3 linked regions of the Homo sapiens genome follow. The gene in region 1 interacts genetically with each later gene. Each region holds a gene or a part of one and is shown on either strand. Other genes may lie near its edges.

Region 1 (2,299 bases):
AAATGGAACCCTGAACAAACACTCTGGCATTGACTTCAAACAGCTTAACTTCCTGACGAAGCTCAACGAGAATCACTCTGGAGAGGTGACCCCTGCCCTTCTTGCCCTTCCCTCACTAAACCCCCATAAATTACTTGCTTTGTACCTGTTTTAAGTTTTTCCTCCAGTTAGTGGGCAAGGAAGTGGCAGCAACATTTCAAGCCTCCTAACCCCTACCTGTCCTGCAGCTATGGAAGGGCCGCTGGCAGGGCAATGACATTGTCGTGAAGGTGCTGAAGGTTCGAGACTGGAGTACAAGGAAGAGCAGGGACTTCAATGAAGAGTGTCCCCGGCTCAGGTAGTGCAAGGCGTAACCTGGAAGCTGCTAGTTCCAAGGAACCCTGAATAGCACTGAAAGAGATCTTTTGTACTGGGTCTCAACCACTCCCTCCCTCTTCTAGGATTTTCTCGCATCCAAATGTGCTCCCAGTGCTAGGTGCCTGCCAGTCTCCACCTGCTCCTCATCCTACTCTCATCACACACTGGATGCCGTATGGATCCCTCTACAATGTACTACATGAAGGCACCAGTGAGTAGGGATGTTGAATTTCCTTGGGGAGGAAATGGCAGAGAGGGAGCCTCTCTGAACTATTTGACTTTTGCCTCCTCTCAGATTTCGTCGTGGACCAGAGCCAGGCTGTGAAGTTTGCTTTGGACATGGCAAGGGGCATGGCCTTCCTACACACACTAGAGCCCCTCATCCCACGACATGCACTCAATAGCCGTAGTGTAATGGTGAGGCCACAAGCTCACTCCTGGCCCAGGCCCCAAAAGCCCTTTGCCTATCTATGACTTACCTCCTTCTATCTGTTTTCTCTTCCTCAGATTGATGAGGACATGACTGCCCGAATTAGCATGGCTGATGTCAAGTTCTCTTTCCAATGTCCTGGTCGCATGTATGCACCTGCCTGGGTAGCCCCCGAAGGTGAGTGAAGTCATCATGTCGGGAGGTAAAAAAGGACCACCTCAGAAGTAGTGGAAGGGGGCAGAGACAGGACAGGCAAGGGGGCCAGAACAGACAAGCCCTATCTCTCCAGCTCTGCAGAAGAAGCCTGAAGACACAAACAGACGCTCAGCAGACATGTGGAGTTTTGCAGTGCTTCTGTGGGAACTGGTGACACGGGAGGTACCCTTTGCTGACCTCTCCAATATGGAGATTGGAATGAAGGTGAGAGCACAACAGCATACATTTGTGTTGCGGGAGTGGTTGGTGATGGTGAAAATAACTGTAGTGGGCCTTGGCTCCTCACATATTTGTTCGGATATACAGTAATCCTGTCCCAAGGGCCAGTGGCTTCTCTCTACATGACAGACTCAAATTGTGAGGCTGCTTTTTTTCTTGTATTCGCAGGTGGCATTGGAAGGCCTTCGGCCTACCATCCCACCAGGTATTTCCCCTCATGTGTGTAAGCTCATGAAGATCTGCATGAATGAAGACCCTGCAAAGCGACCCAAATTTGACATGATTGTGCCTATCCTTGAGAAGATGCAGGACAAGTAGGACTGGAAGGTCCTTGCCTGAACTCCAGAGGTGTCGGGACATGGTTGGGGGAATGCACCTCCCCAAAGCAGCAGGCCTCTGGTTGCCTCCCCCGCCTCCAGTCATGGTACTACCCCAGCCATGGGGTCCATCCCCTTCCCCCATCCCTACCACTGTGGCCCCAAGAGGGGCGGGCTCAGAGCTTTGTCACTTGCCACATGGTGTCTCCCAACATGGGAGGGATCAGCCCCGCCTGTCACAATAAAGTTTATTATGAAAACAGGCTGGTGTGGGGACATGGGGACAGATAAGTACATTTAGGTTGGGTGGCTCAGGTGAAGTAGTGCGGCTTCTTCACATTGATGCCATACTCGCTGAGGGCAGGGGTCAAGTCCTCCATGGTTAGAGTGTACTTGCGGTCCTGAGGGAAGAGGGAAGAGCACCAACTGAGCACAGGAATCCCGGACTTCAATCCCAGATGGGTGACCCTGAGTAAGTCTTACACCTCCCCTACGATTCAGTTTCCCCAAAGGGGTGGCAGGATAAGCCTCCACTGTTGTGGAAGGTAATTACTGATTCATTAAGCCTCCCCTCACACCTTGCTCTTGCTCCGGGAGCTGCCGGAGGCCGTGCCCTTCATTTTGCAGTGCTGTAGGGCATCATTGGCAATATCTGAGATGAATTTCTGGGCAGCTAAGGAGATGAGCCGAATTCTAGAGAGAAAAAACTTAGATGAGAAGGAGATGGACAACATACTGCACAAGCACCCAAAACTAACCT
Region 2 (3,500 bases), on another chromosome or scaffold:
CAGATTCTTCTAGAAAATGTGGTGTCCCCACTGGCATCGATTGAATCTGAATTCTTACTAATACCACAAAGTGTCTCCCAAATTCCTTTTGAAGTCAATCCTGTGTTAAGGTTATCATGTAAACAAATTATTATTGCTGTCAAAATCCTGGGCCCGTGCCCAGAGGCAAAGGAAGCAAAGTACTGGCATGGAAGATATCTACAAGAGAGAAAGAGAAAGACCAAGGTGGCTAAAGATGAGACATTCCCATTGTCTACACTAAGAAGATCCCAAACCCTCTCAATCTTCCCCAGGCACTGATACTCACCTGACTGAGGTTGAAGGTCATGATGCTGTTGTCATCATACAGCAGGATGTTGATGGTATCTAATGCCCATGTGCTCTCTGCCAGGAGACCAGACTTGAGGGACATCATTACCCGCCATGCCTCCGGGGTTCCTGAAATAAACCTCCATGTCGTCTATCCACCAAGCCCAGGTTGGCTGGAGGCACCCCTAGGGCTGCCCCATCAGTGAAGCTACTCTGAAGATAACACAAGGTGGAAGGCAGTTTCTGTCTGGGAGATGAAACACACCAGCCCCTCATGGCTTCTAAGCTGTCTGTCTAGGACTTCATTGCATGGCAATGAAGGAGAACCTTTAGTTAGCTTATTTCTTCCTTTTCCAAAGTTCTTTGGTTCTATTTTAGTCAACACTGGACCAGATTCAACCTCATCCAGAATAGTAAGGTGGAGGGAACAATGGACAAGATGGAAAGGGGCAGATTAGGCAACCGAATGAGGAAGATCTCCTTACCAATGTCTTTCATTGTGAGCCGCCTCCTCTGCTTCAACACAGGCTGTGTGGCTTCAACAGAGCCAGGTGGGAAGGTGATATCCCGCCGAATCATGGGGGGCTGCACAGGGGCAGGTGCTATGTGCGAGGCAGGTACTGGGGGACCTGCCTTCTGCATTTTCATCCCAGAGTGCAGGAATGGAGACTTGCTAGGAGAGGTGCGGTTCTCCATTGGCCGGGGCAGGGGAGCAGGGCTGGATACCTGAGGAATGTGATTCTGCATGCTTGGTGGGGGCTGGTAGTTAGATGGAGGGGGCCTTGTCATGGGGGGCACAGGGGCAGAGGGACCATATGGGGGCTGGCGTGTGCCATGGGAAGGCCACGAGCCTTCGTGGTTGGCCCTCTGATCTGTGTGCAGCATTTCATCTGTTCGGTTCACGCCATGATAGGCGGGGCCCTGGGGGGCAGAGCCCGTGCTCTGCCTGTTGGCATAATTATAGGTCATGTCATTACGCCCCTGCCACATGGTGCCTTGCTGAGCAACCTCAGCTGATGCCTGTATGGGGCCGCCCATCATTTGTGGTGGCATGTTTTGCTGGGCATTGGTGCCAGGGGGTGCAGAGACACGGTCTCGGCCAAACTGGAATGGAAATTGGTTCTGGGGGCCGCCTGCTGGTCGGCGCTCAGTAGCAGCTGTGGCAGTGGCAGGATAGGCATTGCCATACTGGTTGTATACATCTTGCTGAGGGGAAGGCTGGGCAGCTTGTTGCTGGCTGGCAGGCTGGGGCTGGGCTGGGGGCAACTGCTGCTGCTGAGGCTGCCCCTGCCCAGTGCTGTATGGCACGCTGTACATCTCCCCTTCGTGCCGCTTGGCAGGAGGGCCATATGTGCCATCCATTGGCCGCTTGTAATTCTAAGGCAGAGACAAGCAGAGGGGAAGTTAATACTCTGCACTCAGGGACATAAAGCCCACAGATGCCAAGATGGCTACAACCAGATGCTTGGTGGACACAGACTCCAAGAAAACATGGGAATCACCTTAACAAATTGTCTTTTGAAGTTGTTTCCAAAAGCAACCACCACTCTTTCTTCCCTTCCCTTGCTTAAGTAGAAAAATATACAAAACCTAAAAATCAAAATAAGGTCTATTTCTAGCCCCTTCCAACTCCAAATAGAGAAGAGATTGAGGACGTGGCTCTTCAGGCAGGACTGGCCAGTCAGGTGAGAGAAGAATGCCAAAATATCTAAAGTGAGCTTCTTAGACTTCAACACGTTAGATTAGTTTACTAACTAGTTTTCAAGGCGAACCTGCATGCCAGTCCATTCCCAGCTACCCTCCTCACCTGCTGTTGCTGTTGATACATTGTAGTCTGCTGGCTGGGGAAGGGGCTGCCAGAAGGGGTGCCTTGGGTGGAGAACTGATTGCCATAGGAATCATGTCTATAGGAGGCAAAGAAACACAGGATTAGGGTGGGCAGTGGCGAAGCCTGATCCATAGCAGCACCGAGACCAGGCTTTACTCACCGTTGCTGCTGCTGCTGCTGCTGCTGCGGGGGGTAGCGGCTAGGAGAATACATCCCCGAGTCTGGGTTGGAAGGCATGAGATTCGGCTGTGGGGCCCCAGTGCTCATGTTTCCCTCAGGCCCTATTCCAGGCTCCGTCCTAAACAAAATTGGAGAGGCAGATTGAGCCCACTATAGCTTCAGGGTGCTGGGGGAGTGGACAGGAGCTGGGGTCATGCTTACCTCACTCTGTCATAAGGACCTCCATAGGGATAGTGCTGTCGTGGTCCCATCGCCACATTTCCTAGCCCAGGGCCGGCAGCACGACTGTAGGGGTCACCCATCCCGCCGTTGGGGCCCTGCCCTGAGGACATGAAGGGATCACTCCCTGGAGCTGAGCGTAGAAAGGCAAGCGGTGAACAAACTGGTAAGTTGACAAGCCTGGTAATCTACCCTTTGACCCAGGCCCTCTTCAGAGTTCAGGTTTGATCTCATTGTTTTCCAGACAAGTTCAAAACAGAGATCTAAAGAGGCCCCAACCAGCGAAAAGCATGTACTTATTAAGGGATGACAAGGTGAAGCCAAGGAGAAGACAAGAAAGGAGGTAAGGATGAAGAGGGGTAGTTAGGGCAGGAAATGCATTATCTCAGAGGATGGCTCCACAAGAACCCTGAGCCATTCTCAAGATTTCCCCCCATTTCACTGGCCCTGTCTTTACGAGCACAAGTTCAAATAGCAATCAGATCAGTCACCTTTCCTCATGCTGCCATAAGGATCCTTATTTGGCTCATAGGACATGCGCCCCATCATGTCAGAGGTATTCATACTGGGCTGATACCCAGGGTTTGGAGTCATGGAATTCCGCTTCTGGAATGTGGAGTCACTTCCATCATTAAAGGCATCCTGGATCCCAACTGAATTGCTCCTGCTCCAGAGTGAGGAAAACCAAGTAAACCACAAATAAACCAATTCCTCCAATATAACAAAGGACACGCAGGAGTCACTGGCTGGGAAGGCAGAGGCAAGGACCACCTTGGGCTGCAAGGAGTTCCCATGCACTTATCTTCAGCCATCCTCCCAACCATCTGCCCCTGCTCTTGGCCTTACCTCATGCCTGGCAATGGGGGGATCTGACTGTGTGGTGTGGATGCTGGAGTTGGTGGCTTTAAGTCTCCTCCTTCTGCCATGGAACTGCTGGTTGACTGGGGAGTCTGGGGCCCCTGCA
Region 3 (3,500 bases), on another chromosome or scaffold:
AGCTACAGTTCAAGATGAGATTTGAGTGGGAACACAGCCGAACCATATCAACATGCAATATTTGTTTCTTCCCACCTCCTGGTTTTTTAAAACTCAAATGGTAGCATGCTGTGAAGCTGTTATTTACCTTGCTTTTTTAACTCAACAGTATATTTTTTAAAGTGTTTTTTAGTTCACATCTTTTTAATGTCTGTATGTTTTGTTCCACATGTGAAAACATGCGCAACATCACTAATCATTAAGTAAATAAAATCAAAACCATGATGAGATACCACCTCACACCCATTAGGATGCCCACTGTCAAAAAACAGAAAATAGCAAGTATTGGCAAGTACGTAGAGAAATTGGGACACTTGTGCACTCTTGATGGGAATGTAAAATGATGCAGCCACTATTGAAAAATGGTATTGCAATTACTGAAAAAATTAAAAATAGAATTACCCTATGATCTGGTAATACCACTTCTGGGTATTCTGAAAGAATTGAAAGCAGGGTCTGAAAGATACTTGCACAGCCACATTCATAGGAGGATTATTCACAGTAGCTAAAAGATGGGAGCAACTCAGATGTTGGTTGATGGATGACTGGATAAACAAAATGTGGCATATACATACAATACAGTATTATTCAGCCTTAAAGAAGAAGGAAATTCTGACACATGCTAAAACATAGGTGGATCTTAAGGACATTAGGGCAAGTGAATTAAGCCTGTCACAAAAAGACAAATACTATATGGTTTTACTTATATGAAGTATGAAGAGTAGTCAGACTCATAGAACTAGAAAGTAGAATGACGGTTACCAGGAACTGGGGGGAGGGCGAAATTGGGAGTTGTTAATGGGTGTAGAGTTTCACTTTTGCCAGTTGAAAAAGTCCTGCAGATTGGTTGCAGAATAGTGTTAATATCCCCAACACTATAGAACTGTGCATTTTGTAATGGTTAAGATGGCAAATTTAATGTAATGTGTATTTTACCCTAATTTAAAAAAATCCATTGTAAGATTCATAATTGATGTGATCAATTCCTTACAAACGATCATTTAGGTATTTAGGTTGTTTCTAGTCTTTTGTTATTCTAGGAAATGCTACAATCAATAATGTTTTAGATTCTCTTATAACTGTTAGAACTTTGTAGTAAGTTCCTCTCTCATCGTTCTTTCAGGGGTCAAGTCCTTCCTGCTCATACACTTCTGAATACAGTAGATGTTGAACTTATCTATGAGGGAGTCAAGTATGTACTTAAGGTATGCAGAACCCCATTGGAGCTTGCACCTTACTTTTTTAGCTATCTTTCTTTAGGTTGAGAGGCAGGAGAAAAAGTTTGATTTAATGCAGGGATGGGGGTATTAGTGAAATTACCGTCATTATTTTTGTCAGTGTCCTGAAGCAGCGTTTGTTGTTCTATGAAAATCTTTTTTGTTGTTCTTCAACTTCACATACACTGCCAAGAGATAAAGGAGAGACAGAGAACAACCACAGTTGGGGAAAATCAACTAAGGTTGCCCTCTTTGCTTACAGCAGGACTGAGCCATGTCCACAGACACTGATGCAAATAGCATCAGTGCCATGAATTTTCTTCCTCCTGACAGATCTTTCTTATCTGTATTTTTGAAGCATTCAAATTTCATTTGGAGCTGTACCTGGAAGGGACACACTGATCCTCATTCTCATTCCCTACAGGTGACTCGACAGTCCCCCAACTCCTATGTGGTGATCATGAATGGCTCATGTGTAGAAGTAGATGTACATCGGCTGAGTGACGGTGGACTGCTCTTGTCCTATGATGGCAGCAGTTATACTACGTATATGAAAGAGGAAGTGGATAGGTAAGTGGCTGTTTGAGGTCCATTTGCTGGTCATCCTGTTAGCCTTTTCTCTTATTAGCTACTAGCTCTTGGGATTTTCCCAGGCTTTTCTTGGTACTCATTTGTAGTTAAAAAAAAAAAAAATAGTACATGCACTTAACAAAAATATCAAGAGTATTAAAGTGTTTATAATTAAAAACATGTCTCCCTACCACTCCAGTGTATGTGGACAATGAAAAATAAGTTCCCCTTTTTATAAGTAACCATTGTTAAAAGTTTCTTACATATTTGAGTAGAAATTTTATATGCATATACAAGTTACACTCATGTACATACTGTTTTTCTTTAAATACATTCACAAATGTGGCTGGGCGCGGTGGCTCACGCCTGTAATCCCAGCACTTTGGGAGGCCGAGGCAGGTGGATCACCTGAGGCTGGGAGTTCAAGACCGGTGTGGCCAATGTGGTGAAACCCTGTCTCTACTAAAAATACAAAATTAACCAGATGTGGTGGCTTATGCCTGTAGTCCCAGCTACTTGGGAGGCAGAGGCAGGAGAATCACGTGAACCTGGGAGGTGGAGGTTGCGGTGAGCCGAGATCACGCCATTGCACTCCAGTCTGGGCAACAAGAGCAAAACTCCGTATCAAAAAAAAAAGAAATTCACAAATGTTCAACACCAGTTATGGTGTTATGAGAATGAAATAAATTAACATGTTGAAAATGTGTAGAACATTGCCACAACATAGCTAGGCTTCAAGAAATGTTAGCTATTACGTCATCAATATCTTTGTGTGTGTTTTTTTAAATGGTGGTACCTGTTATTTTTAATAGTCATGTGGTATTCCATTATATGATTATACTATATTTAATCTGATCCTTATTGAAGGAAATTTATGTTAATTGACATTGTAAACAAATATGCAGTGAATATGTCTGTGTGTGTGTATAATAAAGTTTTCAGGATTTTTTTTCTTTGAAGGTTGACATTCTCTACCATTCTCCTTTACATCCTGAGGTGCTTTCTTAGCTTACATACTTCCACTTGTCTCCTAGATATCGCATCACAATTGGCAATAAAACCTGTGTGTTTGAGAAGGAAAATGACCCATCGGTGATGCGCTCACCTTCTGCTGGGAAGTTAATCCAGTACATTGTAGAAGATGGAGGTCATGTGTTTGCCGGCCAGTGCTATGCTGAGATTGAGGTCAGGGTGGTGAAAGGACTGTGGGATCATGGGAGGGGAAGGTAGGAAAAGGGTCGGCTGGGATGGACTAGGACTGAAAAGTTACAGAAAGGAGGCTGGGCACAGTGGCTTGTGCCTGTAATCCTACCACTTTGGGAGGCTGAGGCAGGAAGATCGCTTGAGCCCAGGAGTTCGAGACTAGCCTGGGCAAGATGGTGAGACCCCATCTCTATGAAAAATTAAAAAATTAGCGGCGTACAGTGGCACATGCCTGTAGACCCAGCCACTCTGGTGTCTAAGGCGGGAGGATCCCTTGAGCCCAGGAATTCAAGGCAGCAGTGAATGGAGATTGTACCACTGTACTGGAGTGGTACAATTTGTGGCCTGCGTCACAAATCAAGACCCTATTTCTAAAAAATTAAAAAAAAAGGTAACAGATTGGAAATAAGAATGAAAAAGAAACATCAGTTGGCTTAATTAGAAGTGCGAACCTTAAGATTTTTAAAACAC

Evidence for each region. A genetic interaction does not mean that the proteins touch.
Region 2: changes in ILK (region 1) and ARID1A together harm fitness more than expected from each alone (negative genetic interaction), as found in Homo sapiens cells (one large-scale study listed by BioGRID).
Region 3: changes in ILK (region 1) and ACACA together harm fitness more than expected from each alone (negative genetic interaction), as found in Homo sapiens cells (one large-scale study listed by BioGRID).

Annotation. Positions count from the first base shown.
Region 1 is NC_000011.10:6,609,072-6,611,370, forward strand, and holds the end of ILK (scaffold protein ILK), read left to right. Parts: coding exon 1-85; exon of another isoform or gene 86-227; coding exon 228-337; exon of another isoform or gene 338-440; coding exon 441-568; exon of another isoform or gene 569-652; coding exon 653-774; exon of another isoform or gene 775-864; coding exon 865-964; exon of another isoform or gene 965-1,076; coding exon 1,077-1,207; exon of another isoform or gene 1,208-1,390; coding exon 1,391-1,540; 3' UTR 1,541-1,799; downstream 1,800-2,299. Other genes in the region: TAF10 (transcription initiation factor TFIID subunit 10), read right to left, coding at 1,851-1,940, 2,118-2,232. UniProt on the Homo sapiens protein: Scaffold protein which mediates protein-protein interactions during a range of cellular events including focal adhesion assembly, cell adhesion and cell migration.
Region 2 is NC_000001.11:26,772,515-26,776,014, reverse strand, and holds part of ARID1A (AT-rich interactive domain-containing protein 1A), read right to left. Parts: coding exon 3,383-3,500; intron 3,204-3,382; coding exon 3,028-3,203; intron 2,670-3,027; coding exon 2,519-2,669; intron 2,436-2,518; coding exon 2,298-2,435; intron 2,214-2,297; coding exon 2,117-2,213; intron 1,687-2,116; coding exon 795-1,686; intron 439-794; coding exon 308-438; intron 1-307. UniProt on the Homo sapiens protein: Involved in transcriptional activation and repression of select genes by chromatin remodeling (alteration of DNA-nucleosome topology).
Region 3 is NC_000017.11:37,246,337-37,249,836, reverse strand, and holds part of ACACA (acetyl-CoA carboxylase 1), read left to right. Parts: intron 1-1,162; coding exon 1,163-1,244; intron 1,245-1,680; coding exon 1,681-1,826; intron 1,827-2,860; coding exon 2,861-3,011; intron 3,012-3,500. UniProt on the Homo sapiens protein: Cytosolic enzyme that catalyzes the carboxylation of acetyl-CoA to malonyl-CoA, the first and rate-limiting step of de novo fatty acid biosynthesis.